Linked DNA regions of Homo sapiens: regions 1 and 2 are each linked to region 3. Evidence: fine-mapped expression QTL. A gene starts in region 3. Each other region holds a variant in brackets. All regions are shown on one strand. Distances are between the middles of the regions. Region 1 overlaps KBTBD11 (kelch repeat and BTB domain containing 11). Region 2 overlaps MYOM2 (myomesin 2). Region 3 holds the start of KBTBD11 (kelch repeat and BTB domain containing 11).

What was found.
Region 1: its variant is fine-mapped to the expression of KBTBD11 in whole blood (INTERVAL, PIP above 0.99).
Region 2: its variant is fine-mapped to the expression of KBTBD11 in whole blood (TOPMed, PIP above 0.99).

The regions. Positions count from the first base shown.
Region 1 is chr8:2,000,908-2,009,985 of GRCh38, forward strand. It overlaps KBTBD11 (kelch repeat and BTB domain containing 11), which reads left to right. Exons shown (of 2, transcript NM_014867.3): 2 at 1-6,029. The coding sequence starts at 286. The coding sequence ends at 2,157. Among named protein-coding and RNA genes, the nearest start is that of KBTBD11, 32 kb to the left of the region's middle. The variant G/C (reference allele first, on the strand shown) is at 5,164.
Region 2 is chr8:2,111,977-2,121,617 of GRCh38, forward strand. MYOM2 (myomesin 2) reads left to right here. Exons shown (of 37, transcript NM_003970.4): 26 at 3,984-4,128; 27 at 4,240-4,299; 28 at 5,909-5,976. Among named protein-coding and RNA genes, the nearest start is that of MIR7160, 40 kb to the left of the region's middle. The variant G/C (reference allele first, on the strand shown) is at 5,009.
Region 3 is chr8:1,968,666-1,979,382 of GRCh38, forward strand. It overlaps KBTBD11 (kelch repeat and BTB domain containing 11), which reads left to right and starts at 5,012. Exons shown (of 2, transcript NM_014867.3): 1 at 5,012-5,270. It overlaps KBTBD11-AS1 (KBTBD11 antisense RNA 1), which reads right to left and starts at 4,680. Exons shown (of 3, transcript NR_136275.1): 1 at 4,483-4,680; 2 at 3,875-3,998; 3 at 2,514-3,692. KBTBD11-OT1 (KBTBD11 overlapping transcript 1) reads left to right here and starts at 2,732. Exons shown (of 3, transcript NR_126346.1): 1 at 2,732-2,853; 2 at 3,260-3,372; 3 at 7,234-7,779. RefSeq lists enhancers at 9,322-9,881, 9,882-10,440.

The DNA of each region.
Region 1 (9,078 bases), 31 kb after region 3:
CAAGACTTTCTGGGCAGATTTAAAGTGGCTGGGGTTCAGAAGTTCAGCAAGTCGGACACACCCCTCCTCGCTGGAGAGGAGAGGGCAAAGGCGAGGCGGGGGAGCAGCGTGTGAGATTCCCCCCTTCACACACACAACAACAAAGCGTGGACACACAGAAGTGAAATCTGATCGCGTGCCAGGAAAAGCTGTGAGGCTGGAAACCCCGGAGTAAGGCTCGACCTTGGCCAGACCTGCAGGCTGCGGAACCGGGGGCGCGCGGGCGCAGCGCAGCACAGCCCGGCCATGGAGCACGCGGTGGCCCCCTGCGTCCTCTACCCAGGGACTGAGCCCGGGGCTGCCGGGGAGAGCGAGAGCGAGGGCGCCGCGTCCCCGGCGCAGACACCCTGCAGTCTCGGCGCGTCCCTGTGCTTCAGCTCCGGGGAAGAGTCCCCGCCGCAGTCCCTCGCCTCAGCGGCGGAAGGCGCGGCCACCTCCCCGCCCTCCAGCGGTGGCCCGCGGGTGGTGGAGCGGCAGTGGGAGGCCGGCAGCGCGGGCGCCGCGTCCCCGGAGGAGCTCGCGTCCCCTGAGGAGCGCGCGTGCCCGGAAGAGCCCGCGGCGCCGTCCCCCGAACCGCGCGTTTGGCTTGAGGACCCCGCGTCCCCCGAGGAGCCCGGGGAGCCCGCGCCCGTACCCCCGGGGTTCGGGGCGGTGTACGGGGAGCCGGACCTGGTGCTGGAGGTGTCGGGGCGCCGGCTGCGCGCGCACAAGGCGGTGCTGGCGGCGCGCAGCGACTACTTCCGCGCGCGCGCGTCGCGGGACGTGCTGCGGGTGCAGGGAGTGAGCCTGACGGCGCTGCGGCTGCTCCTCGCCGACGCCTACAGCGGGCGCATGGCGGGCGTGCGGCCCGACAACGTGGCCGAGGTGGTGGCCGGCGCGCGCCGCCTGCAGCTGCCCGGCGCCGCGCAGCGCGCCACCGACGCCGTGGGGCCGCAGCTGAGCCTGGCCAACTGCTACGAGGTCCTGAGCGCGGCCAAGCGGCAGCGGCTGAACGAGCTGCGCGACGCCGCCTACTGCTTCATGAGCGACCACTATCTGGAGGTGCTGCGCGAGCCCGCCGTGTTCGGCCGCCTGTCGGGCGCAGAGCGGGACCTGCTGCTGCGCCGCCGCCTGCGCGCCGGCCGCGCCCACCTCTTGGCCGCGGCGCTCGGGCCGGCGGGGGAGCGCGCGGGCAGCCGGCCTCAGAGCCCCTCGGGGGACGCGGACGCGCGCGGGGACGCGGCCGTCTACTGCTTCCACGCGGCGGCCGGAGAGTGGCGCGAGCTGACGCGGCTGCCCGAGGGCGCGCCGGCGCGGGGCTGCGGCCTGTGCGTCCTCTACAACTACCTCTTCGTGGCGGGCGGCGTGGCGCCCGCGGGCCCCGACGGCCGCGCGCGCCCGTCCGACCAGGTCTTCTGCTACAACCCGGCCACGGACAGCTGGAGCGCCGTGAGGCCCCTGCGCCAGGCGCGCTCGCAGCTGCGGCTGCTGGCCCTGGACGGTCACCTCTACGCCGTGGGCGGCGAGTGCCTGCTCAGCGTGGAGCGCTACGACCCGCGCGCCGACCGCTGGGCCCCCGTGGCGCCGCTGCCCCGGGGCGCCTTCGCCGTGGCGCATGAGGCCACCACCTGCCACGGCGAGATCTACGTGTCCGGGGGCTCCCTCTTCTATCGCCTGCTCAAGTATGACCCGCGGCGCGACGAGTGGCAGGAGTGCCCGTGCAGCAGCAGCCGCGAGCGCTCGGCCGACATGGTGGCTCTCGACGGCTTCATCTACCGCTTCGATCTGAGCGGCAGCCGCGGCGAGGCGCAGGCGGCGGGGCCGAGCGGGGTCAGCGTGTCCCGATACCACTGCCTGGCCAAGCAGTGGAGCCCGTGCGTCGCGCCCCTGCGCCTCCCCGGCGGCCCCACGGGCCTGCAGCCCTTCCGCTGCGCCGCCCTGGACGGCGCCATCTACTGCGTGAGCCGCGCGGGCACCTGGCGCTTCCAGCCTGCCCGGGAAGGCGAGGCCGGCGGCGACGCAGGCCAGGGCGGCGGCTTCGAGGCGCTGGGCGCCCCCTTGGACGTCCGGGGTGTGCTCATCCCGTTCGCTCTCAGCCTGCCTGAGAAGCCGCCCCGAGGGGAGCAGGGCGCCCCGTAGGCCGGCGGGGTCGGCGGGCGTCTCCCTCGGCAGGGGTTTGCGGGGCCCAGGTCCCTTTGGGCCCGCGGAGGAGGACGTGGTGGGGAGTCGGGGCCGCTGGCCACGCTGGTGGTTTGGACACTTCGAAGGAGCCCCGAGGACGCTCTCAGGGCCGCTTTCGCTTTGCTTTCCTTTTGCTTGTCTTTGCTTCTGGGGGTGGATGCCTTGAGACCCAGGAGGTGTGCGGATGGGTCCCTTGACAGACAGGACACAGAGAAGGCTGTGGGATCCAAAGGGTCAGCCTCAGGGTACAGTGGGGGTTCCTGAGGCAGCCTGCAGCCGGCCCCGGGGTGTCCCGAACCCCGCAGAGCACCGAGGCTGTGCGCAGGAGCCTGGGACCCTCAAGTAGGTCGCCGCGAACTATCGGGGGAAGCACGCAGAGAGGGTCACGCCTTTTATTTTTGGCTTGAGATTTAAAATTATAACTGATAAGTAAAGCTCTTTCTGATTTAGTTGAAAATTTCGTACCATGTGCTCGCTTTGGTTGGCTCAACTCCAAAAAGAGTAATTTAATAAGCATTAAAGGTAAAATCTTTGATTACCAGTAAGGTTTCTTGTTCAATATGCATTGGAAGTATTTCCTTCCCCACACCATTGCTACTCAAACTCACATGCCTAGAGCAGCTCCGTCTCACTGTTGGACCGAGGGGGCTTTCATATTTTCAGTTGAAAGGATGTTAACTGATGTAGCGATGATTTACCATTATTTAAATTTTAAGTCTTCAGTGGCTAAATGTGACCAAACAGCACATCATAAGTAGGAAAAACTTACCAGGGTGCTTGTCTATCTAAAAAGCAATCTTTGATAGTCCACTCTGTATGCCCAGCCGCTTTCATAATCTGGAACGAGATAAAATATTCCTAAAAAGCGGGGAAAATCATTTTGCTTTGACAGTTCTATAAAAAAAAGTGTAGGCACATTTTAAACCCACTGTATATGATGTTTTCAATGTGGATCGTGTAGTTCTGATGAGGGAGATTAATTTTTACAATCAGTATTCTAAGTGTGGCCGAGTGACAGTGGGCATAGATTTATAACAAGGAAGTGACGTGCTTATCACCATAGATTTGCAAGTAAACTGCATGTATTTAATTGTATTGAATTGAGTTCCAAAATACCCTAATAGAATTAACACGAGGCTCACTGCATTGACAGGGTATGAGGATTAAAAACAAATCAGTTGGGTCGTTTCTCATTTAACATTTTACTTTTCAAGTGTGTATACAGAGGACTTACTATTATGACTTTGAGGATGAGATCCATGCTCACAAATAGAGGCGAACATTTGAACTCCGAATCCAACCCATTTTCTTACTGTAAGAGGAAAAGTTACTGGAACGTAACTAGTTGAAATCCTGCCTACTTTAATATTATTTGTTTGTTAATCCAGTAATGGGAACTGCCATCTCTGTAGAAATCAGTGGGTAATTGAAAAATAGGTTATGCTTTTTAAAGAGTCTGTGGTTATGAGAGGTCTCAGTTAAGTGTGTTTAGAAGTGATCAGCTTGAACCTTATGCATGACTCGGGGGCTGGAATTTATGATCTGGGTTACGGTATGTTCTGGGGACGTGTCTGCTTGCCCATGGTTACTCATGAACTGAGGGGATAGCTTGGCAACTTGGTTAATCATCTTGGGAAAGAAAAACAGACTTCATATCGCCTGACTTGATTGGCCTTTTATAGGAGTATACTGGAGAAATGGTTGTAGAAACAGTATTTACAGCAAAAGGAAACAAATAATGTTCATTTTAAGCAATGTACCATTCACACTGTCCTGCCTTTTCCTCTAGAATTTTATTAATGGTAGAAATTTTTATATGAAATGGGACCAGGACCAGGCTAATATTTTCAGTCCTTAAATATCAAACTCATATGCTGTTATCACTGTGATTTTACTTGTGAAATCATTCCTGTAATGTTTATTGTTTGAAAATGAAATATTGAAATTAGGCTTCCAGAGTAACACTGTCCCCGGAAAAGGATATGAGAAGTGGTGGATGTTGGATGGGGGTGGTTGCACAGTCCTGTGCGGTTCCCATGGCTTTCCAGCGTTTCATTTAGTGAAGGAATGCTCACACTAGATGTAGCACAGCTTCCTGTGGGGCCCGGCAGCAAAGCCCCAGGTGCTCCCTGTCACCTCACAACAAAATGCACTAAGAAACGTAAAGAATAAGAGGAATTAATACCCACCATTAAAGGATGTCCGGCCAACCTATTGTGGAAATTTATAGAATAGTATACACCACAGTTCTGAATAGTGATATCACATAAAAATACATACTAGAGGACCTGCCACGCCATGAGCAGTGTTTTTGCTTTTTGGGGGCCAGTCCCTGGGGTGTGGAGCCGCTAGGGTTTGCACCCATGAAACAGAGAAAAGCCACACCCTCCAAGGTGTGGCTTTCATTTTGGGACTGCTGCAGGGAGGGCAGAGGCATTGCTGAGACTGCCTGGCAACGGCTGATGCCCCAGGTAGGACCTTTTCCAATTCAAAGTGGTGTTCTAAGTCTGCGTCCAACACTGTGTAGGAAAAAGGTTGGTGCAAAAATATTCCTGGTCATCCACCCATTAAAATAGTTAGATGAGGCTATTGCCTTGATGACAGCTGTCCACACTCCTCATGAAATTAACCCGTATGCCGGGGCATTTCCAAATGTCTGACTCGTGAAATTAACCCATACGCAGGGGCCTTTCCAAATGTCTGAAAAGGCAGTGGTGTCTTTTGGGGAAAATGTTATGCATGGAAGCCTGACCTTTTGCTTAGTTGACAGCAATCCCTTCTGTATTGCCAATCAAGGTTCATTTGAGATGCAGAGGAATGAGCTTGAGCCTTCCTCCTTTTCCTTCCGGTTTTATTCTTCCTCTTGGGAACATCCCTCCACTCCGCACTGCTTCCTGCAGCTTTGTAGAGCTGGATTTGGAACTTCGGGATTTGGTTTCTGAGTCTGTGGAGGCACCGACTTCT[G/C]CTGTAAGAAAATGAATGTTGTGGAAATTCTTTGGCTACTTAACTAAAACTCGTGACTGTATAAGTTTGGCTACAAATAAGTAAGAAATTAATCATCTGCTCTGTTTCTGCTAATTTCTGGTGTCACTTCAGTAATTCTGGTAGCAGCCGTTGAATCTGTCAGTCTCTTAGGTAACTTCCTGTAAACGATTTGGAAATAGGATGTTTTCAACGTTCTTTTGTCTTTTGCTGAAGTCAGGATAGATTCAAGACATAATCTCTTGTAAGATCTAAATAGAGCAAATGTAAACAAAAGTGCATTTTTGTATTCTTGTTAATTTTAGATGCTTTCCTAGCTTACAAAAAGTTCTGTTTTTGGGTTAAAAATCAATCAACTTTCTGATATTTCCCCTTCTGCAATGTTATTGTTCATAAGAAAACACGAGCTGAAAATGGAAATCTGCAGTTGTTTCAGTTGTCTTGAATTTCTTTCAGTGGCCACATCATTTCCACGTTTTCCACATCCGGGAGGAAGCCTGGACTGTGCAGCCTTCGGGCACCCGGCACAGACACTGTGCTGGCAGGAGCTTCAGACACGCCAAGTGGATGGATTTGGATTGAACGCATATGAAACAGGAGACGGGTTCTCATGTGAGATCAAAGCTCCTCCAAAGCCTGTTCAAGCTCTAAGCGATTCTCAAATGTTACCATTTATTAAAGGTAAACTACACCTGTTGAAGGCCAAGTTCAGGGCAGCTGTTGTGATCTGTGTAGTTAATGTATTTATTAATGCTTGACTTTTAAAATCCTGGGCATAAATAGTGCAGAGCCTCGTATGTTTGTCAGTTCATGCCGAGATGAAATAAATCACGCAGAAAGTGCCAGTCCTCCTGATGTGCCCCGAGTGCTTTTCTCTTTCTCCACAGCGAGCGTCAGATGCGGCTTTTTCTCCTGTGAATCAGGGAGCGTAGCTCTGCCTGCGGGACCCAGGGTTGACACGTCCTGCCCGTTAAGTGAGGAACTGCCCTCACCGGCTCCTGAAGCTCCCCTGGCACAGAGGTTCTAAGTTGGGGTGTCTGTTCCCACTCCCAGGTGCCCTGGATTCCTCGGTCTGCTCACGGGTCCCAGCGGGGGATCACGGCACACCACCTAGGACCTCGGGAACACCAGGATGGGCTGCACAGGAGCAGGTGGAAGCCGAGGCCAGCGCCTAGACTTTGGTTCCTAGGGAAGGCAGGTTGGGGGAGCTGCTTCGCTGCACTGGTTTGTGTCCTTCCAGTGGGCTTTGTGCTATCACGGTGGTCTCCAGTTGCCTGGTACCGGGCCCAGGGGTGATACAGGGCAGGGCTTGTGTGTGAGAGTAGCTGAGGAGGGCTTGGGGGTGTGGACTGCGGCCAGTTGGTCTGGCCATGAGCTCCCAGCCAAGCCCTTCCCATCTCTAAGAATGAGCTGACTCAGGAGGACAGCCTGTCCCTGGCCAGGCCAGCAAGCTGTAAGATGCCAAAACATCACAAAGCACAGAAAATGAAAGAGGTGGTCAGTAGGACCGTCAGGCACAGTCCCCTGCCCCTGGAGTGGGTCGGGAGGTACCAGGGTGGGCAGGGAAGAGCATTAGGGCCATCCCACGTCTTCCCCGGTGTCCTGTCCCCTTCCACCAGCAGCACCTCCTCCATGAAATTTCCCAGTTGCAGTGGGGCTTGGGGGAACTAATGTAGAACATGTCCTCCCGCCCACCCCCCAGGTAAGAACGAACTGAGAAACGGCTCAGCAGCCAGGCAGGTGGGACTCACAGCCACTGCTTCACCCGCAGGGGCTGTGCCAGAGAGTGGTGCTGGGTTTGTTGCCACGTGGGCTTGTGAAGGCCACCGGAGTCAGTGCACACATCCTACCACCCCAGGGGGTCATATGCACTCAGCCCCCACCCCAGGGTGTCAGATACACTCAGCCCCACCCCAGGGTGTCACTTGCACTCAGCCGCACCCCAGGGGGTCATATGCACTCAGCCCCTACCCCAGGATGTCAGATGCACTCAGCCCCCACCCCAGGGTGTCAGATGCACTCAGGCCTATCCCAGGGTATCAGTTGCACTCAGCCCCCACCCCAGGGTGTCAGATGCACTCACCCCCCCACCCCAGGGTGTCAGATGCACTCAGCCCCAACCCCAGGGGGTCAGATGCACTCAGCCCCCACCCCAGGGTATCAGATGCACTCAGCCCCCACCCAAGGGTGTCAGATGCACTCAGCCCCAATCCCAGGGGGTCAGATGCACTCAGCCCCCCACCCCCTACAGGGTATCAGGACACCAGGACTCCTGGAGGATGCAGCTCCCAGAACTCCCTGTGAGTGAGCACAGAGCCCTGCTCCTGGGGGGCAGGTCCCATGGGAGAGCCCAGATGTGAGGGAAGGGCTGCTCCCCACATTCCTCCCCTGGGGAGAAGAGGCTGGGGTAGGAGCTGCAGAGAGGCCAGGACCAGGAGCCTCAGAAATTTCCTTGCAATGGAAACAGGCCTGGAGCCACGTTCCCCGGGGATGCACCTGTCCTCTCGTGGCCACTCCATGTCCTGGGGGAGCACAGGGGTAGGTGCCTTTGCATGTTTCTGAGCCGTTGGAGCTTAGAGATCACTCTCTGCCCTCAGACTGGGCTGAGGTCGGATTAGAATGTTAAATACCAGGCAGGGCCTCGTATTTAACCACTGGGGTCTTCAGGACCCCGTGGCCTCCAGCGTCTCCAGTGCCGACCCCAAGGCCCAAGTGTGGGCCTCGAACCCAGCTCGACACAGGAGGGGTGGCCTCGAGCCCCGCACCCGCAATGGAAAAGGACACGGGCCTCACAGGCTCCTGGGGTCTTCACTGAGACAGCTGAGGAAGAAAACGGTCTGGAGCCGATGAAAGGCGTGGCCAGGATGAGGGAGGAAGACGCTCCTTCCCGTCCCGTGTGCTTGAGGCGTGGGCCGAGTGAACGCTGTGGTGAGACCTGGTGCTCCTGCATGTCGCCACCACCCTGCCCTCAGAGCAGATAAGGCCATGGCCGTGACGACACCCAGCCATCGGGCCACCTGGGCTTCTTTCTTCCTCTGATCCGAAGACACCCTCCTCCACCCTCACCTGGCCTCCTACCAAGGAAAAGTTTGAGTTGAAAACCTGTAGACACAAACATTTTTCTTTTTTCTTTTTCGTGTGCTTCTTTTTTTTGTGATGGGGTCTCCCTCTGTTTCTCCCTCTGTCGCCCAGGCTGGAGGGCAGTGGTGCACTCTCAGCTCACTGCAGCCTCCAACTCCTGGGCTCAAGTGATCCTCCCGCCTCAGCCTCCTGAGTAGCTGGGACCACAGGTGCATGCCACCATGGTCAACTAATGTTTTTAGTTCTGGTAGCGATGGGGTCTCACTGTGTTGCCCAGGCTTGTGTCAGACTCCTGGCCCTAAGCTGTCTTCCTGCCTCAGCCTCCCAAAGTACTGGGATTAAGGTGTGAGCCACTGCAGCAGGCCCAAACGTTTCTAGACACAATTTGTACTTGAGCCAGAACCAAGTGTTATTGTTCATTTGTCAGGGGTCTTGAAAAAATTATTTTTCCTCTTAAAATCTTTATTTTTCATGCACTCAGCCCCAACCCCAGGGGGTCAGATGCACTCAGCCCCCACCCCAGGGTGTCAGATGCACTCAGCCCCACCTCAGGGTATCAGCTGCACTCAGCCCCAACCCCAGGGGGTCAGATGCACTCAGCCCCCCACCCCAGGGGGTCAGATGCACTCAGCCCCCACCCCCCACAGGGTATCAGGGCACCAGGACTCCTAGAGGATGCAGCTCCCAGAGCTGCATCCCAAAAAAAGGAATGTTGCTAAAAGTATATTCGTAAGCAGAGTGGAGACAGAAGCTCTCCAACCTGAAGTTGTTATCTTAGTTTTTCTCATAGCATTTTCTTCTGTGGAAATAGAATTC
Region 2 (9,641 bases), 140 kb after region 3:
GGTAGGAGTGGAGCAGACTTTATTCACACGTAAACCCTGAATGTCAGATTCGATGAAACAAAAATTGCAGCATCCCCGGGAGCTGTTGGGAGCTTGGGCGGTCCTCTTCCTTTCCCAGTGGACGGCAGCACCTACCCTGTACATCACCTGTTGAATATCCACTTGGCCAATACACCAGCAGGGACAGAACAGTCAGATGTGAAGTTGCCCTTACAGAGACTGTCACGGAGTCAAAGAAATACACCTTCAATTAGAGGAGGACAGAGAAGAAAGATAGAACCCAGGTTATATTAAAACAGTACAGTAAACACTCTCAGAATTCAGAGAAGGCAGAGAGTTGAAGAGGCTGAAGTAGTCAGGAAGGATTTCAAGGGTAGAGGGTTATTGAAATGGGTGTTAAGGAGGTAGAAATCATGGGTCGGGGGGTGGGGGTCAGGGATGGGAGGGAGAGAATGAGACATTCCAAGCCGCTCTAGTGCACAGAGAGTGGGGAATGATCAGGGAATAGCGACACAGGGAAGTGGAGGGGTGGGCTCAACGGAGGGGGCTGTTTGCCTGAGTGATCTTAGGAAATAGTGTTGGGGAATAGGAGTGGGGTCAGAAGATACAGACTTTGAATGTCAGGCAGAAGAACTTAGAAACAATGCTGAAGAAAATGAACACAGAGAGAGAAACTGAACCAAGTGGCCAGTTTGCTAATATTCGTCTTCTAAAGCCTCTCCGGTGGCACTGGCATTTGCAATATCAAAACAGAAATGTAAACTCAGAGAGAAAGAAGAACATGTGAAAACAAATGCACGTGATTTATCAGAAGAAGGTTGCTGATTTTCTGGCTAAACTTACATTGTCACCTGCAGATAGAAATTCTCTGCAGTATTGCTGCTAAGGCAAGGGCTGTGAGAGGAGTGTGGTTCCAAGGGCTGACGGAGTCTTCTCCCGCTACGCCTGCCTCATTTGCCGAGCACCACAGGTTATTAGTTTTTTGTTTTGCTCATGTGGCCCCAAGAGCCTCCTTGGGTCCTGGGTAAGATCATTATTCAGGCTGGAAAGCCTTTGCCCCAATTCCAGCTGAGATCGATCCGACAGGTAGATGCAGATCTGCAGAAAATATTGACAGCAGCTGAGACTACCGTATTGGTAACGCTGGGCACGAGGAAGCCGAGGCCGGGCATCCACACTCCCGTGATTCTACGGTGGCATGGCTGGGGCGAGTCCCGCGCTGGACATTGGATTCCCTCGACGCCATCGTGCCTTGCATTACTGCTGCATTTAGGATGAGTCACACACTGGGATGTGGTCCTTCTACCGTCAAGACCCTGCTCAATGTCAGACACTGTATCATCCAGGTGGAGTACAACACAATCCACTAGCAGCCATAACACCTTTCAGTATCTGTTAGCACATCCCAAAGGCTGAGTGAGCAGAGGTGTGGGGAAGGTGAGCTGGGAGCAGGTGAAGGCCTTGGGAGGTCTCTACCCCAGATGCTGCCTGGGGTGGGGCTTCTGTGCCCAGGGTGTGGCTGCACCAAGGCAGGGAGGTCAAAGAGGGTGGTGCAGGGGGTTAGCTGTTGAAGGAAGAGAGGTGACAGTTGCAGCCAGGGATGGAGGAAGGACCGACTGGGACAGGTTCATAGTTTCAGCCGATGACTGATCTGGAGGGGAAGGTCTCAGTTGATCAAGAAGGCTTCTCAGGTCTGCACTGGGAAGGAAGTTCCGGTCCTGACCATGTCCGCGGGCTCTCACCTAGAAGCATAATTATCTTCCAAAATTGCTCAGTGTCACTTAGTAGTGTCAGAGACCACAGCCACCTCAATGCCACAGATGGCAGGGTGAGCTAAGCCCCCTCCAGCTGACTTTCTCATCAGAACCTTGTTGGACATGTGTTTGGTATTTCTCACTGCCAGGCATGATGCTGGGCACAGCGTGAGGCTGCAGGGATGAGTAAGGCCATGCCTGCTCTCAGGGGCTCATTGTCTGGCGAGACAGACAGACGGCAGGTGGATAGGTAGGGTGGGGAGGGTGCTCCCAAGGGCAGGGTGCTATTGGGGGAAGGGAGGCAGAGCTGTGGAAACCCCATAAAACACCAAGCCTCACCCGGGGGCATCAGGGAAGTCTCCCTTGGAGCCAGTCACAAGGGCTGCATTCGGGTGAGGTGGCCACGACAAGGATGGGCAGAAGCTGCACTGTTGCAGAGAGGCCTGCAAGCTCAGAACTTTGGGGCATGGCCCTCAGGGAACTCCAAGGCATGAAATGTATCCCTGCATTCATCACCAAAGCAGCAGAGAGGCAGGTAGTCCAGGCTTCTGTGGACTGTTCCTGTGATACAGTGTAACCTAGAAATCATGAAGTGATGCAAAGTAGTGTTCTCAGACCAACCAACAGCCTTCCAGTCTTTCTCCTATCTTAGCAACAAGACAGCTGCACTGCAGGCAGGGAGGGGGAACTGTGTGGGCAAATGTTTGTGGTTTGGTTGTATGCATTATATATGACAAAATTTCTTCTTTCCCCCTTTTTTTGAGACAGAGTCTCACTCTGTTGCCCAGGCTGGAGTGCAGTGACTGTGATCTCGGTTCACTGCATCCTCTGCCTCCTGAGTTCAAGCTCATGCCTCAGCCTTCTGAGTAGCTGGGATTACAGGCGTGCGCCACCACACCTGGCTAATTCTTGTATTTTTAGTAGAGTTGGAGTTTCACCATGTTGGCCAAGCTGGTCTCGAACTCCCCACCTCAGGTGATCTGCCCACCTTGGCCTCCCAAAGTGCTGGGATTACAGGTGTGAGCCACTGCACCCAGCCTAACAAAATTTCTTTTTTCTTTTTATTTTTTTGAGACAGGGTCTTTCTCTGTTGCCCAAGCGATCCTCCTGCCTCAGCCTTCCCTGTAGCTGGGACCACAGGGATGTGACAAATTTATATACTGCTACACAGGAAAACTCGTTTTCAGAATTACAAGGAAGAGATGGTCTAATATATTAAGAACATATATTGGCAAAGACCAATACCATATGAAATTGGTTTGAAACAGTTCTAAAAATTACACAGGCTGATTGATGTTTTGAAAGGTTTCATTAGAATTAGAGTTATTTAAGTGAAAAAGTGAAATTTAAGTATTAATATTAATTTATAACTTTAATAATTATCAAGAAGCACAAAAAGGTAAAAATATCAAGCCCCCAAATAAGGCAACCAGCAAAAAAAAAACAAAAAACAAACAAACAAAACATAAAAAAGAGAAATAAGCATTAATAAAGATGGGGAAAATGGTTTTAGTGAAGTTAAAAAGTTAATAAGTAAACATCACAAAATCAGAGGGAAACAAAAGATCAAATTTGCTCAATTCATCTGTGTGTTAGAGAAACACTTGTTCTTTGACTTGTAGGATTACCTAAATAGAACACATTCATATGTATCTGTGCATGTACTGTAGAATAAAATGAAACATTTAAAAAATAAAAGCGATCAAAAAAGTCAACACCTGTTGGAGGTCCATTTATCCTTTCCTCACCTGAAACCCCTGCACCCTGATGGACCACAGCAGGCTGGGGCTTGTGGGTGCTGTGTCCCGGGAGCTGAAGATGACAGTGGCTGTGGAGATTGCCTGTTGTTGCTATCCATGTGGGATTTTTGTCATCAGCTGGTGATCGTTATCATTCATATCAATTGCGTATCATTTTATTTTCTCCTGTGAATTTTATCTGCTTCACGTTAGTAACTCATTCTTGGGTAGGTGTGGAGTCTCTGCCTAGAAGGTCCCTGGTTTGGACTCTCAGATCTCCTCACACAGCCAGGCTTTGTCACTGAGTGACAGCTCATACCCACTGTTTGATCCTTGTTCACCCAGAGGTTTCCTTGATAAAATTTCATTTTGGTTTCTTCCTATCATAATCCCTTGAGATCTCATGGCTGATGCAATTGTTAAATGTTGCAAGGGAAAACTAGGAGAGATTTCCTTGTATAATTCTCCATTTCCCTTGTTTTGCTTGCAGATACACAGAATTAAATGTGACAAAGCTACTGGCATTATTGAGATGGTGATGGATCGATTTAGTATTGAAAATGAGGGGACCTACACTGTGCAGATTCATGATGGGAAAGCCAAAAGTCAGTCTTCTCTAGTTCTTATTGGAGATGGTATGCTATATCGAATATTTCCACGTCCATACAAGATAATTCAAATGAAATTCTTTTGACTGGAGAGAAGCAAACATGTTTCATATATATTTTTTTAAATATTGAATTTAGCATTCAAGACTGTGCTGGAAGAGGCTGAGTTTCAAAGGAAAGAATTTCTCAGGAAACAAGGTGAGTTTCCTCACTCTGACCGGCTCCCCTGCCCCTAGCATAAAGCAAAGATGATTGGAGTATTTGTCAGAAGCAGATCTTGCATGATCCCAAGCAACCCTAAAGGCTGTTTTAAATGATTAAGAGGTTAGGCTTACCAACTGCATAGGAAAGGAACCTGCTTTATAGCAGGGGAGTGAAGAGGAAAGCGTGCCTCTAGCTTTAATGTCCAGACGGAGTCCAGCAATTTTAATGAAAAGAATAAAGAATGGGGGTAGAGGAGGTGGTGGCTTCATTTGGCTTTGAAATGTAGAGAAGGCAGTAGAGGCTATTCCTATCACCAGGAAATTGCTCATTCTACTTAAGATTGTGGGAGCTGTTAAACTTTCTAACTACAAACAATATGTTTTAAATAGATTGCTTTTACAAATACATGTTAACTAGATACAAAGGAAAATGGATACACTTTAGATTCTCAAACATACCCCAAGGGTTTATTCAAAGAATTTTTTTTCTTTTTTGAGATGGAGTCTTGCTCTGTTGCCCAGGCTGGAGTGCGGTGATGCCATCTTGGCTCACTGCAAGCTCCGCCTCCCGGGTTCACGCCGTTCTCCTGCCTCAGCCTCCCGAATAGCTGGGACTACAGGCGCCCGCCACTATGCCCGGTTAATTTTTTCTGTATTTTTAGTAGAGACGGACGGGGTTTCACCGTGTTAACCAGGATGGTCTC[G/C]ATCTCCTGACCTCGTGATCCGCCCGCCTTGGCCTCCCAAAGTGCTGGGATTACAGGGGTGATCCACTGCGCCCAGCCTCAAAAAACATTTTTATATATGGGATTTCTGAACTTCTTGAGAAAAATTAGAATGTGAATTATGAAACATAAAATCAAAACATTCATTTTTATTATTTTTCATTGTTTTTATTTCTAATAGTCACAAATATTTTACTTACTTCTACATTATGAACATTTTTGGGCCAACTTTGTAGGATGTATTTATGTATATGAAAGAAGTGAACACATACTTTCCAAATCTGCTTTGTATTTTTGCATTGAATGGCAAAAGGGTATTAGTGTATGACTTATTCCTACATGTATTTTAAATAAAAATGATTAACATTTTTTAAAAACATATATAAACCTGTCTTTGATTTTGAATGCTATCTAAAGAAAATGTGTTTTACAAAATTGCTAGGTCAAACTGTTGTTTCTTTATCTCATATCTATTCTCTTATTTAAAGGTATTATTTACCATGTTGTCGAATGTTCAGTTAGACATATACTTTGGGAAACAAAATATAATTATTTCAATAGCCTCCTTTCTGAAGAGCAATAGATATGAGATGTCAGTAAGAAGGAGCCATCAGACGTACGCTCCTACCAGGAAGCACAGATTCCAGTGGAGAATCAGTGTTAACACGTGTCGACATCCCAGGCCTGAAAACTATCTCAGTTTCATCCTCCACAGCTATTGTGTTCTGCCAAAAATGCATTACATAAATATATATAATACATTCTTATGTATTATATATACACACCATGCATATATGTGTGGGTATATATATATAATAGCTATATATTTATTTGTTTACTTTTTCCTTTTTTATATGTTTTCTTCCCTTTTTTCCTCCCTAGGCCCTCATTTTGCTGAGTACTTGCACTGGGATGTCACGGAAGAATGTGAAGTTCGACTTGTTTGCAAGGTGAGAAACCCGGTTCTAACAGGAAAACAATAAATCTCATTCTGGTTCCTATCAGAGAGGCCTTTCAGGGAGTAGCTGTGGCCAGATCTGTGATGCTGGTGAGGAAACGTGTGGTGCCTGTGTAGCTGCGGATGGGCGGAGTGGCTTTTGGGTCCTGTGGACTTTTTAATACTTGGACTTCAGTGCTTATCTTTTCTTCTTCACGAAAAGATTACAGTGTAGTGGGATGCAATGGAAGGTTGGATTATAAAAATTTTACTTAAACGATTATTAAGTGAGTTTATGAGAAAGTGTGCCCTGGTGAAATACACCTAGAAGTGCTGCTCATACGAGTTCATCAGGAAAGGAAAGGCATGCTTTGGAGACAAGATACTTCTTTCAGTTTCGTTTAACAATGTAGTAATGAAATATGTTTTATTACTAAATATAAAAATCTGTTTTTTAAGCAGCAAATCTTCAATTTAATAACTGCCTACTATTTGACTGTCTCAGGATGAGGGGATGGGGGAAAAAGATCAATAATGCATTGTTTTTACTCCCAAACTAGTTTCTTATTGTCTACTGGATAAGAGAGAAAAGTAAACAGACAGTTTCAATAAAGAGATGATTCGTGAGCTGCGTGTGCCAAGGGGACTAAGAATTATGCAGGCCAGTGAGTGGGAAAAGATGGTTCTAGGAAGATCCAGCAGCAGGGAGGGACAGAGAAGCTGAACTGTGCACTTAAAAATAAAAACAATAAAAAACCCAAGGCTGGTGGGCAAGTGGGGCATTCCCCTGCAGGACCCAGAGGCTGGCCATGGACTGAGAGGGTACAGAGCACCTGAGGGCTGTTAGTGCAGTGACACGGGCTGCTGGTTGACAAGGAAGGCTGGAGGTGGCAGGGCTGGAGGACGACGCTTCAGTAGGCTGCTGAGAGATGGTAACTCCAGCAGGGCAGTTTCATATCCACCGAGAGAAGGAGATTTAGGATACACATCCAGCAGTTAAAACCAGCAGGGGCTGGCAAGTAGCTGGGTGTGGGTGAGAGGGAAGTGTACTGGAGGACCGAGTGGGTGTGATATTTCTTGAGATCAGCACTGTACGGGGAGGGCCAAGTTTTAGGGTTTTGAGAATACATTCAATTTCACAAAGATTTAGTTATATCCGTGGAATGGTCAGTAAGGCATAACCGGCTCACGACAGGACATGTGAACCTGGCAGCAATGGGAAAGTCATCTGGAGCATGTGGATTCATGAGATATCGTGTGTGGATTCATGAGGTATTGGGAATGCTTGGCTGTGGACATGACGCAAGTGGGTCAAGCTGCCAAAGGACAGCCTTTAGAGACAGGAACATCACAAACAATTGGGGCATTCTGGAAAATTCAGATTGTCAGAGGAGAAGAGGAGACCAGCTCCAGGATTATTAAGCAGAAACCCTCAGAGAGTTCAGAGGGAAAGCAAGTGACTTGGTGGCCTCTGGCAGGGAGGGACTTTGGAGTGAAGCGCTGCGTGGCCGGGTGAGGAGGGGCGGCTGGAGGCAGCGCTGCATGGCCGGCTGAGCAGGGACAGCTGGAGGCAGCACGGGCTGGGTGCTGGGCTTTCCAACCCCACTCCCTGGCAAGGCAGGGTCTCTACGTGGTGGGCTGAGGAGATGGGACACAAGGGGGGATACGAGCAGGAGCCCGCTGCCCTCTGAGGTGCTCAGCTGGCAGTGAGGGAGAGCGAGGGGAGTCAGGGTGGCTTTGTCTTTCCTTCTGGATGGAGACGCTCAATCCTATTTATAGGCAGAGGGGTCAGTGGAAGAGGACTCACAGGTGAAGGAAGGGGAGCACATGGGGACACAGGAGGGGCAGTGCTGGCCTGGAGGGAGATGAGACCAGGTCAGCACAGCCATGCAAGGGGCTGCTTGGCCCCCAGGGCAGCTCCCTGTGAAGGACAATGAGGGGGCGGGGGGGATGCCAAAAACCAGGGCAGAGCAAGCGGCAGATCCATCAGTGCAGCCCGTTGGTTTCACACTCTTTCCAGTGAAGGGTTGGAGGGTGTTGAAGATGAGGAAGGTAGCCCACAGTGGGGGGAGTGGCAGGAGTGGGCTGTGATTGCCACTGAAGGAGGCAAGACAGCAGCTCCTTATTAAGAATGGAAATCATTGTTGAGTGCATCAACGTGGAGATAGCTCGTAGTGGCCCACATAGGGGTGCTGGGATTGATTTTTCCAGATGTGGCCAGTGACCTAGTGTGAGTCAGGGGACAGACTCATGATTGGGGTCTTGCTGGATGGAAGTTGCAAGAAGGGAAGATGGAATAGGAACTTTGGGTCTTGTTTAACTGTCGTTAGTTGGTCAACCAGCTGTCTAAGTTGAGCAGGAAAGTGAGGCCAGGCGGGATAAATGGAGAGGAGGCAGGGCTAAGCCTTGGTGATCTCCACTTGGCCACCTCAGCGGGGACACTGGGGTGTGAGCTTGTTGATGAGCCTAAGTGTCAGGTGGGGACCTGCCGTGAAGAGCAAGTGCGTGCCTGTGGAGCAGAGGTCTGCAGTGCACTCGGGAGTGGACCCGGGCAAGGGGATTTGCAGGAGGATGGGGCATGGGGGTTTGGAACTAGGTGGCTGTTGAACACACCCTAGATAGGTGCAGGTTACTCCTAGAAATTTGTGTGATGAAAGGAACCGTCTTACTATTCTGACCATCCTCAGTATTGGTAATTAATTTGCAATTTGATTTCCTGTATATATATATATATATTATATTATATATAAATATATAATATATATATTTTAATTGCCAATCTAATTGCTTACTGTCTCTTAAATCAATACTGTTTTCCCTTCCTCTCTTCTTGAAAGAAATTTATATAGATATATAATTGATAATACATTATATATATATTAGTGATAACTAGAGCTAAGGCTTTGATTTGATAGGTTCGATAACATGCTCAAGGTTGTGGTAAATTTATTATAGAAAAATACTTAGATTTATTTTTGGTAGTGAATTTCTTGCACTAGTGTGTTTAAAAGGAAGATTCAGAAATGAAAACATTTATAAAAGAAGAGAAGGTTACTTGCAAGGAAGCTGCAAGGGAAGTGGTCTTTAGAAGTCTTGCTCAACAAATGAAAAGCATAATGGACATTTAAAGGGAAGAATCCTGCCAGGTGACTGATGATAGCCTGTGTATGTAGTCCATTCATGCTGCAAAAACAACTTTCTCAAATTATTTACCCTGCACAGAAAGGTATGTTTCTTCCAAATTTTAGACATCAGCACTGCAAAAATCAGTTCCTTAGGGAGTCAGCAACTCAAAGCCCAGAGCAAGTCAGTGTGACTTGGTTATGGTGCTGGTTTATTCTTTTTGTTGTTGTTGGTATTGTTGTTCTGACCGTGCCATACAAGGTGTGTGTGCACTCCCAAGGCCAGTGGCGAGACCCCCGAGTTCTGCTTTCCATGGGCTCTGATATCATCTTAGTGGGATAGAACCGTCTATAAATATTTAAAATTATTTTAGGTTCCCTGACTAAAGTGATTCATAAATCTTTAAACACAGATATTGGGAAAACTAATATTACTTGAGGTTTGAGGGTTTTTTGTGCAATTTAATACATTTGATTTACATACTTGTGTCCCTGTCAAGCCTGTGATTCGGTGCACCATTTTGTCTACAGGGTTTTTCATTTAATAATGTGGTGC
Region 3 (10,717 bases):
TTTACTTGTTTCAGATTTAAAACATCTATTTTACATGTTTCAGATTTAAAACATCTATTTTACATGTTTCAGATTTAAAACATCTATTTTACATGTTTCAGATTTAAAACATCTATTTTACATGTTTCAGATTTAAAACATCTATTTTACATGTTTCAGATTTAAAACATCTATTTTACATGTTTCAGATTTAAAACATCTATTTTACATGTTTCAGATTTAAAACATCTATTTTACATGTTTCAGATTTAAAACATCTATTTTACATGTTTCAGATTTAAAACATCTATTTTACATGTTTCAGATTTAAAACATCTATTTTACATGTTTCAGATTTAAAACATCTATTTTACATGTTTCAGATTTAAAACATCTATTTTACATGTTTCAGATTTAAAACATCTATTTTACATGTTTCAGATTTAAAACATCTATTTTACATGTTTCAGATTTAAAACATATATTTTATATGTTTTAGATTTAAAACATAAATTTATATATAAAATATATATTTATAAATTTATATATAAAATATATATTTATAAATTTATATATAAAATATATATTTATAAATTTATATATAAAATACATATTTATAAATTTATATAAAATCTATATTTATAAATTTATATATAAAATCTGTATTTATAAATTTTATATGGAAAATGTATATTTATAAATTTTATATGGAAAATGTATATTTATAAATTTTATATGGAAAATGTATATTTATAAATTTTATATGGAAAATGTATATTTATAAATATATTATATATTATATATAATAAAATATATATAAAATATATTTTTATATTATGTAATATATATTTTTATATTTTATATATAAATATATATTTTATATTTTATATATAAATATATATTTTATATTTTATATATAATATATATTTATATATTTATATATTTATATATATTTATATATTTATAGATTTTATAAATAATAAAATCTATAAATCTATAAATCTATAAATCTATATAAATATATATAAATATATAAATATAAATATAACATAAAATTTATATTTAAAATACATAAATATATATATTTGAGACAGGGTCTCACTGTGTTGCTCCAGCTGGAGTGCAGTGGCGCAATCATGGCTCAGAGCAGCCTCAACCTCCCAGGCTCAAGCAATCCTCTCACTTCGGCCTCCTGAGTAGCTGGGACTACAGGTGCACGCCAGCACGCCCGGCTAATGTTTTGTATTTTTGTGGAGACAGGGTTTCTCCATGTTGCCCAGGCTGGTCTCCAACTCCTAGGCTCAGGCAATCTGCCCGCCTCAGCCTCCCAAAGTGCTGGGACCACAGATGTGAGTCACTGCCCCCGACCCTCAAAATATTTTAAATTGCAGCTAACTTGCTCTAACATTATTAATATATGCCTTGAAACTATTTTAAAGTAATGGTTGCCATCTTATTTCCTTTATTTTTCTGAAAAATGGTTACTAGGATTCCCCCTAATAAACGTACTGGCCATGTGGAGACAGCAGCGTTAATTCACTGGCAGAGCGTGTTGCCTGTGGGTAACCTGCAATCTGCTTGAGGGAACCACGTGCCCAGGCCCCTGCAGCCCCTGGGAGAGCCTGTCAGGGATGATGAGCAATGGGCATTTGGGCTCAACAGGCCTCACTCCTTCATTTAGTCAACAATTACCGAGCTTGGCTTCATGCCCTCACATTGCTGGGCCCAGGGGTACAAAACTAAAAAGCATGGCCTCCGTTTCCCTATTCGAATCAGGACAATTAGGGTATCATCTTAAACCTGGGACTGTCTGTAATTTAAAATTTGGGGTCCAGGCACGGTGGCTCACGCCTGTAATCCCAGCGCTTTGGGAGGCCGAGGTGGGTGGATCACCTCAGGTCAGGAGTTTGAGACCAGACTGACCAACGTGGTGAAACCCCATCTCTATTAAAAATAAAAAAAATTAGCCGGGCGTGGTGGCACACACCTGTAATCCCAACTACTCGGGAGTCTGAGGCAGGAGAATCACGTGAACCCGGAAGGTGGAGGTTGTAGTACGCTGAGATCACACCATTCCACTTCACACTGGGCAACAAGAGCGAAACTGTCTCAAAAAAATAAAATTTGGGGAATGACATGCTTAGCACATGGCCAATGCATGTTTGCTATCGATAGTCAATAGTGGACAATATCAAAGAGGACTTAGGAACACACTGTTTCCTTAATATGAGGGTCTCAGGCGCTGGCTGGTAACATAGGTGGAGAGACTGACATAAGGAAAGAGCTTCACAGTATTTAAGCAGCAGCTTGCGACAAAAACGCAATTGCACACAGTTCATCAGAGCTGAGGAAGCACTGAAGTAGGTAAGGTTCACCTAAGGGAGTGCCAGGGCCGGGTAAGGTTCACCTAAGGGAGTGCCAGGGCCGGGTAAGGTTCACCTAAGGGAGTGCCAAGGCCAAGACTACTTTTGTACAATATGCACAGAATTTTTTAATGAACCAGTGAGTGTTGTTTCAAAGCCAACACATATATTCTAATTATTTCTTCATGCCAAGAAGCTGGAAGTACTTTATAGCAATTGGCTCCATTCCTGACAGTTATTGGGATTTAACAGCTTTATTGGCTGGGGGAGGAACACATGAACTCCTAAGGGCTAATACAAGCATTTGGGAAATTATCTGTTGTCTGGCGTCAGCACTGGAACAGGGCAGCAGAGCTGGAGAGTAAGAAGCAGAGCTGGAGAGGAAGAAGTGTTTGCTAAGTCACCGCGCAGGAGGAGACAGAATCAGAGGTGACGAATGTAAGTCCACCCATTGGCTTAAGATCCAGTATCCTGAGTGAGTTGCACAGATCCTCTCCTTCAGTCCTCTCAGGTAGGTGCAGTGGTGTCTCCCTGGAGCACAGAGAGGCCAAGTATCTGGCTCCAAATCACAAGACTTGCAGAGGGTAAGGCTGGTGTCTAAGGTCCCATCAGTTGAACTCCAAAGCAGGCTGTCTAGAAATTGGGTTCAGAGACCTCCCAGCCTGGAACCCAGTTTGATGGAGTCCCGCATTCAGGGGCCAGTAAACCACTGTACCCTGGACAACTCCATAAGCTTCGGTTATATTTTTAGGGCGGTTTTGCATGTTGAAATATTTGCATGCTTCGAGTCTACCATGCATGATCAGGCTGTCCCTGACCAGGGGAAAATTTACATAGTAAAATAGTATTACCCTTGAAATAGATTTAAGATAGGTCCTCCTTTTTCTTGACAGTATTACAACCCAGTTCAATTTCAGGAACTCTAGAGGTCCCTGCAGTTATGAAGAACTAATTAAAGGCATGAAATGTTCCTCTGCAAGTTTCATTGACCATATTGGGCCTACAGTCCATTTCCAAATAAATATCTAAGGTAAGAAAAATATGGGACTCCCCACAGACTACTTATCTACCAGATGGTGTGGGGTTTGGATGGATGTTTTCAGTTACTTCAGCAATTTTTTCATTAATTCAGTATTTATTGAGAACCTAATGTATGCCAAGCTTGTAAAATGCAGTGGGGGGTATGACCTATTCCCAGGTCTCTGGACTCTGGCAGAATGGTAGAGAAGATGCTGTCGGGCTTGCATGTTCAGAACACCGTGTCTTAGGTGACCTCCCGGGCCTTTGGAGGCCCAACCCCAGGGTGGCGGGATAGCCAGGTGAGGCTTTGTTTGGCCTGTTCACGTTTCTCTGGAAAAGAATGGGGGTAGTTAGGCCAGGCGCGGTGGCTCATGCCTGTAATCCCAGCACTTTGGGAGGCCAAGACAGGTGGATCACTTGAGGTCAGGAGATCGAGACCAGCCTGGCCAATGTACAGTGAAACCCTGTCTCTACTAAAAATACAAAATTTAGCTGGGTGTGGTGGTGCATGCCTGTAGTCACAGCTACTTGGGAGGCTGAGGCAGGAGAATTGCTTGAACCCAGGACGCAGAGATCGCAGTGAGCCGAGATTGCACCACTGCATTCCAGCCTGGGCGACAGAGTGAGACTCCATCTCTAAAAAAAAACAAAAGAGAAAAAGAAGTATTATTCTGCAGCCGAAAGGAAGTAGAGATGCACTAAGAAGATCACAGTAGAGTTTGGAACATTTTTGGAGTAAACTGAACAAAATAAAAACGGAGCAGCATGGGAATTATTTTAGCTTCCACCAAAAGGGTCTGTTTCTGCTATAGTTAACGGAAGTTTTCAATTTTCAAAAAATCCCAGTAGCTCGCTGAGTTTCAGCCTCCTGTAATTCAAGTACTGACAGCAGGTACTACTCTTCTTGGCAACAGAGTGAAAAAGGTTTTAAAGATGTTCCCGGGGCGTTAGCTTTGGTGCTGGAGTTGTAACGGCTCATTATGTGTATACAGCATGGAACTGGCAAAGACTGTCACAAGCAAAAAGAACACAAAAAGAGAAAGTAAAGGCTCTGGCTCTCGGTACTTATGGAAATCTCATCGTCATTAATTTGCACAAAGCCATTAAAAATAGCATTTACCAGCAGGGGTCCAGCGTTAATTAGAACCCAGCCTGGGAGCAGCTGGAACTCTCGGCGCTCCTGGCTCAGTCCTCGCCGCCCTGAACCCGTCTGCACCGCAGGGCCCGAGTGGGAGGCAGAGGCCACATTTCTGGATATGAGCAAAAGCTCCGACATTTCGTCCACTCTCGTGTTGTGAACTTTAAAAAATTCTGGAATCTGTTGAGAATTTGGCAATAAGTTTTTAACCACTAAATATGTCAACAACGCATCGCCTCTACTTTTACCAAAAAATAGGCGCACGAAACTCCGCTGTTTGCGCCCGCGGACACCTGTCCCCGCCTCCTCGCAGGAAGCGGCCCCCGCGCGTGGGCGCGGGCTCGGGCTCGGGCTCGAGTGGCGACGTGGGCCGCGGTCCTGGAGGGGGAGAAGCGCCCGGCGGGCAGGCGCGGGGCAGGGAAGCCCCGGGGAACCCACAGCCCCTCCGCAGACCCAGCCAGGGGGCGCGCGCCCGAAAACGCCCCGTGTGCACGCGCCCGCCCCCCTCCCCGCGCCCCGCGCGCGCCCCTCGCAGCCTGGAGCCGGAGCGCTGGCTCCGCGCGGCCTGGAGAGGCGGAGAGGCCTGTCCACCGCCCCCTCTGCCGCCCACGCCCCGCTGCGGGTCGGAGGAGCAGCTCCCGCTCGCAGGTGCTCGGAGAGGCCGGGCCGCGGCTCCCACAGGTGCCGGGAAGCGGCCGCGCGCATGCGCCGGAGCCCACCCGCCTGGCTGCGCGTCCCGGGCCCGGCGGCTGAAGAGGAGCCGCGGCGAGGTAGGGCGGACCCCGGGGAGGCAGCGGCGGGGCCTGGCGGGCGGAGCGGGAAGCAGCCCGAGGCGCGGGTCGGAGGGGGCGGCGGGTGGGAGGTGGTCGGCGAGAGCGGCAGTAGGCGGGAGGGGAGAAAAGGGGAGGCCGGCAGGGGAGAGGCGGGGAGGGGAGGCCGGCAGGGGAGGGAGGGGAGCGGAGCGGAGGGGAGGGGAGGGGGGACCGGGAGAGGAGGGGGCAGCGCTGCCCGCGGCGGGGTGGGCGGCGGTGGGTGGTCTCCGCTCCGCCTCCGGGAGGCCGCGTGGGGGGCGTGGGGGCCTCCTCGCGGGGTCTCCACAGGCCCTCCCCCGGGACGCGGCAACCCCGGCCGGAAGACAATGAGCCGCCCGCGCCGCGCCCGCAGTCACCGCCCCCGCCGAGGGTCCCGCCGCCCCAGCCGGCACGGAAGCAGGAGCAGAAGCCGAAGCCAAGCGCGCGGGGCCAGGGCGGGGGCTCCTCCCGGGGTTGCTCCGCTTGGCTCTCGGCGGTCGCGGGGATCGGCTGTCCGGAGCGAACGGGGGTCTCTCCTGGACTCGGGGCCCTGGGGAGGGGAGCGCGGCCCTTGGTCCTCCGCCGCTGCGCCCGGGGTGCGGGGGTGTCCTGGCTGCTGACCCCCGCGAGCCCCGAGCACCGCGACCCACCCGCCCCACCGCGCCGCGGCTCCCGAGTCCTGCCGGGCGCCCCTTGCAGCCCCCGCCCCATGTGCTGGGGAGACCCCCGGGCGGTCTGGGCGGGATTCCGCAGGGGTCCCTCCTCTCAGGCGGGGCTCATTCTGGAGCATGAAAAGAGGGTGAACCAAAGTCCCTCCACCTCTTTAGAGTCCTACAAAACCACGTTTCCCCCTCCACCCACTCCAGTGTCTATTCTAAGGAAAAGAAAAGGAACAAATCAGTGCAGCGAGCTTTATTCTACTCAGCCCACGAAAGGCGCCGCCGTCAGATTTTAAAGTTCCAGCCATCCCCTCAGGCCCTGAGTGAGAAGTTCGCCCGATTCCCCGCGGTTCCCGCCTCCATTTCCCACTAAGGAGCAGTTACTCAGGCTCCAATTAGGACCCCTTAATGGATGTCAATGGAACCCTTCAGCCTTTTATCCTGAGCTAATAGTGTGCTATTATTAGAATAATCCTCCCCATTCCTGACATCACGGAAGGGAGCGTTCCATTGCCTTCAGATTTGCTCCAGCAACAACCTCGTGTGTGCAGATTTATGGTAACTGGCATTGCAATGCTCCCATCAGGGCATAACTAAGTAAAAATTGTAATGAGGTAAAGCCTTTGAACTTTCCATGTCAGTTGCACAGGCATTGCTGGCCATAGCATTGGACAGCACATAATAAAATCAGTTAAAAGATGTTGCTTACATTATAGTGATGTGTAGCACAGCCACGTTCGGATCAATTACAGACCGCCAAGTTGACGGTGGTCCTGTAAGATTATAAAACTGTTTTCCCTGTGTCTTTTTCATGCTTAGAAATGTGTAGATACACAAACACCATTGTGTTACAATTGCCTGCGGTATTGTGCACGCTGCACAGGTGTGCAGTCTGGAGCAGGAGTCTGTGCAGTGGAGCACAGGTGTGTAGCAGGCTGCACCGCCTAGGTGTGTAGGTGCCCTGTGTGATGTTTGCACAGTGATGAAGTTATCTAACTATCATTTCTCAGAACCTGTCTGCATCTGAACCATTCGTGACTGTATTTAAGCCAGCATTGGGCTTGGGAGGAGGGGAGAAAGCTTAAATGTTGTGGCTCTGAGACTAAAGAAATTCCCAGGGAGCAGGACTCTGTGTTGACTGATGTCTGGGCCTAACTTGAACCTCAGAGCACCTTGCTCTGGGTGGATGGAAGAATCCGGAAAGGTGGTTTGGAGCTTATCGCATCATTTGTAAACTCCAATACAAACCCGCTTCAATGGGGTTTCCATATGTTCCGGTACAGGTAGCAACCTTGGCAGTGGGAGCCCAGCAGGTCCCGTCTTTGTCCCTGTGCTGATACAGAGAGACTCTCCGTGCTGTGGACGCCTCCATCTGGGCACATGTTTCAGTTGTTTTCTAAATACCAAGAGCACAGATTGCTCAGTAATAATAGCTCTCCTGCAAATCTGGAATCACTTAGGCAGCTGCAGTGCCTCTAAGCCTCCTTGCATCCAAGGCTGTGATCAAGGAGGACTGGTGTCTGAGTGGGCTTGAGAAGGGCCCGGAGAACAGCGGGTTTCCTGATCACAAATCAGCCTGTCATTCAGCATGTGTTCCCTTGGTGACTCAGGGCGATATCTGCCCTTCTCCGGAGGTCAAGGGCTCATCGTGTCAATTGTGGTCTTGAGTTTGTTTTTTTTTTCCTCTTGAAATCATTGTAATTAAGCTAAAAGTATAGTGTTGGTATCCAGCACATGTTTGCAAAGTATTTAACAATGAGCAAAAACTTTAAGAATAAATTAAAGCATCTAGTTTACTTTTTGCCAACAGCCAGGTTCCTGCTAGAAATGATTTTGAAATAAATGTTGTCTTGGAAATAGAAACCGTTGCATGTCTTATGTGCATTTTGTTTGAAGGATTAGCATGAATTTCCTTCTCTTCTGAATATTTGTGGAGTTCCCCTGCTCCCCCACCCCCCACCCTGCTGTGGGTCAGGCTCAGTCCTAGGTGCTGGGAATACAGTTGTAAGTAAAGTCAGCCTAGTTCTCTGCTATCTGCAGCTGAGACGTTAATACAGTGAAAGGCATTCAGCATATAATTACGTTAATTCTTAGGTAATAACACACGGAGATGAGTGCGTTGAAGGAGAGGAATACATTCCCTTGAATGCACGTAACAGAGGAATGTTAGGCCGAGAACTAAGGGATGAGAGGGGTGGCTCAGGAGCCCAGGAGGGGACAGTTTGCGGGAACATTGTGTGCAAAGGCCCTGTGGTGAGGACTAGAGCACGGAGAGGTCAGTGAGGGGCGCTGGAGCAGGGTGTAGTAAAAGTGTAATGTCAGCCGATTTTATGGCTGAGTTAAATTGATGGAGCTTCACACTTTAGAGCAAGGTCCTCCAACCCATGGGCCACGAGCCACATGTGGCCCAGGACAGCTTTGAATGAGGCCCAACACAGATTTGTAAACTTTCTTAAAACATTATGAGTTTTTTTTTTTTTTAAGCTCATCATCTATCATTAGTGTTAGTCTATTTTATGTGTGACCCAAGACAATTCTTCCAGTGTGGCCCACGGAAGCCAAAAGATTGGAGACCCCTGCTTTAGAGCTTGACTGAGTTTCATATGGATTAATTTTGTAGCATGGAGACTTCCCGAGTCCTAAAGTGAAATCATTAAATAGGAAGATGCACATAGAATGTTTTGTAAATGAAAAACCACGGTGCCGATGTTAGCTGGTATTGTTACTGTTTTATTAGAAAGGTGTAGAGTCGTGGGGACATACATATGGGTGTGGTTCTATGAAGTGTACCATCTTTGTCCTGGCCACCTCCATCTCATGCTTGGACTCCTGCAGTAGTCTCTGGAGAGGCTCTGCACATCCTCTCTTTGAACAGGTCCTCCTGCAGTAGTCAGAACAATGATTTTTATTATTATTATTATATTTTGAGATGGAGTCTGGCTCTGTCATCCAGGCTGGAATCCAGTGGCACCATGTCAGCTCACGGCAACCTCCGCCTCCAGGGTTCAAGCAATTCTCATGTCTCAGTCTCTCGAGTAGCTGGGATTACAGGCGCCCTCCAGCACACCCAACTTATTTATTTATTTTTTTTTGTAGTTTTAGTAGAGATGGGGTCTCAGCATGTTAGCCAGGCTGGTCTCGAACTCCTGGCCTCAAGTGATCTTCCTGCCTTGGCCTCCCAAAGTGCTGGGATTACAGGCATGAACCACCACTCCCAGCTCAGAGCAATTATTTTTTAAAATTCTTACAATAGTGGGCCTTTCATAGCTTCCCATTCCTGCAAGATGCAGTTCACAGTTCTGAATATTCGTATCACGACCCTTGTTCCAATATCATGGTGGTTCAATAAGCCATGCACAGCTTAGTGGCTTAAAACAATAGCATTTATTTATATTTTAAGTTGCAGGGTACATGTGCGGGAGGTGCAGTTTTGTTACATAGGTAAACGTGTGCCATGGTGGTTTGTTGCACCTGTCAACCCATCACCTAGGTATTAAGCCCAGCAGGCATTAGCTCTTTATCCTGATGCTCTCCCTCCGCCGCCCTCTACAGGCCCCAGTGTGTGTTGTTCCCCTCCCTGAGTCCATGTGTTCTCATCATTCAGCTCCCACTTATAAGTGAGAACGTGGTGTTTGGTTTTCTGTTCCTGTATTCGTAGCAATAGCATTCATTTTGCTTAAAAGTCTGCAGTCTCGCTGGGCACAGCTCACCTTGGTGCCACTCAGCACCAGATGCGGAGCTTGAAGGCCAAGGGCTGGAACCATGGAGGCCACTGACTTGCTGCCTGAGGCTTGCGCCAGGAGGATTCACACACTGGGGGCTGGCGCAGCAGGGGCCCCTCGGGGACCTTCCCCTGTCACTGTGTGACCGTCCATGTACTCGCTGCAGCGTGGCAGCCTTGATGCAGTGGACTCCCTGTGTGTTGAGTCAGGGTCACCACGGACTGTGACCTGAGAAAACAGCCAGGTGGAACCGGGTCACCTTTCTCACGAGGCGGGGAGGTCATGTTGTGTTGCTTCCCCCTCAGTCCCTGGCCTGCCACGTAGAAGGGGAGGGAACGGGGTCTCAACTGTGAGCGCAGGGGAATCTCACTGGGCGGGATGGGCGTGCCGAGCAGGGTTCATCCATGCGGCATGTTTGGAAAATAGAATCTGCTCTTTCCACTAAGGTCATGTCCCTTCCACATAAAAAAGGCTACGGCGATCCCCAAGTCTCATCCTGTTGTGGCATCAAGACTTGGGCTCCAGGAAGTCATCATGGAAGTCAGGTGTGAAAGTGCCTCCCTGGGTTCCAGTCCTTCCTCTAATGCAAAGGCTGGTGTTCCAAAGCAATGAGAGACCCACCCCCAGCCCACAGTGCACAGCCCTGGGCAGGCACAGGAGAACTGCTGTAGGCCCTCGTGCTGGTCAGGGTTCTCCAGGGAAACACAACCAACTGGGTACATGTGTGTGCATGTGTGTGCATGTGTCTGCACGTGTGAGAGGGATTAGAGAGCAAGATTGAAGGACCTGGCTCATCCGATGGTGGTGGGGCAAGTCTGAGATCTGCAGGGCAGGCCGGCAGGCTGGATAGCCAGGGAAGTGCTGGCATTGCAGTCCCTCCTCCTCGGGAACCTCCGCCTTTTTAAGGCTTTGACTGATTGGACGAGGCCCACCCATATTGTGAATAGAAACATGCTTTACTCAAAATCTTCCCATGTAAATGTTAATCATGTCTTTAAAAAACACCCTTAGGCCAGGTGCAGTGGCTCACGCCTGTAATCCCAGC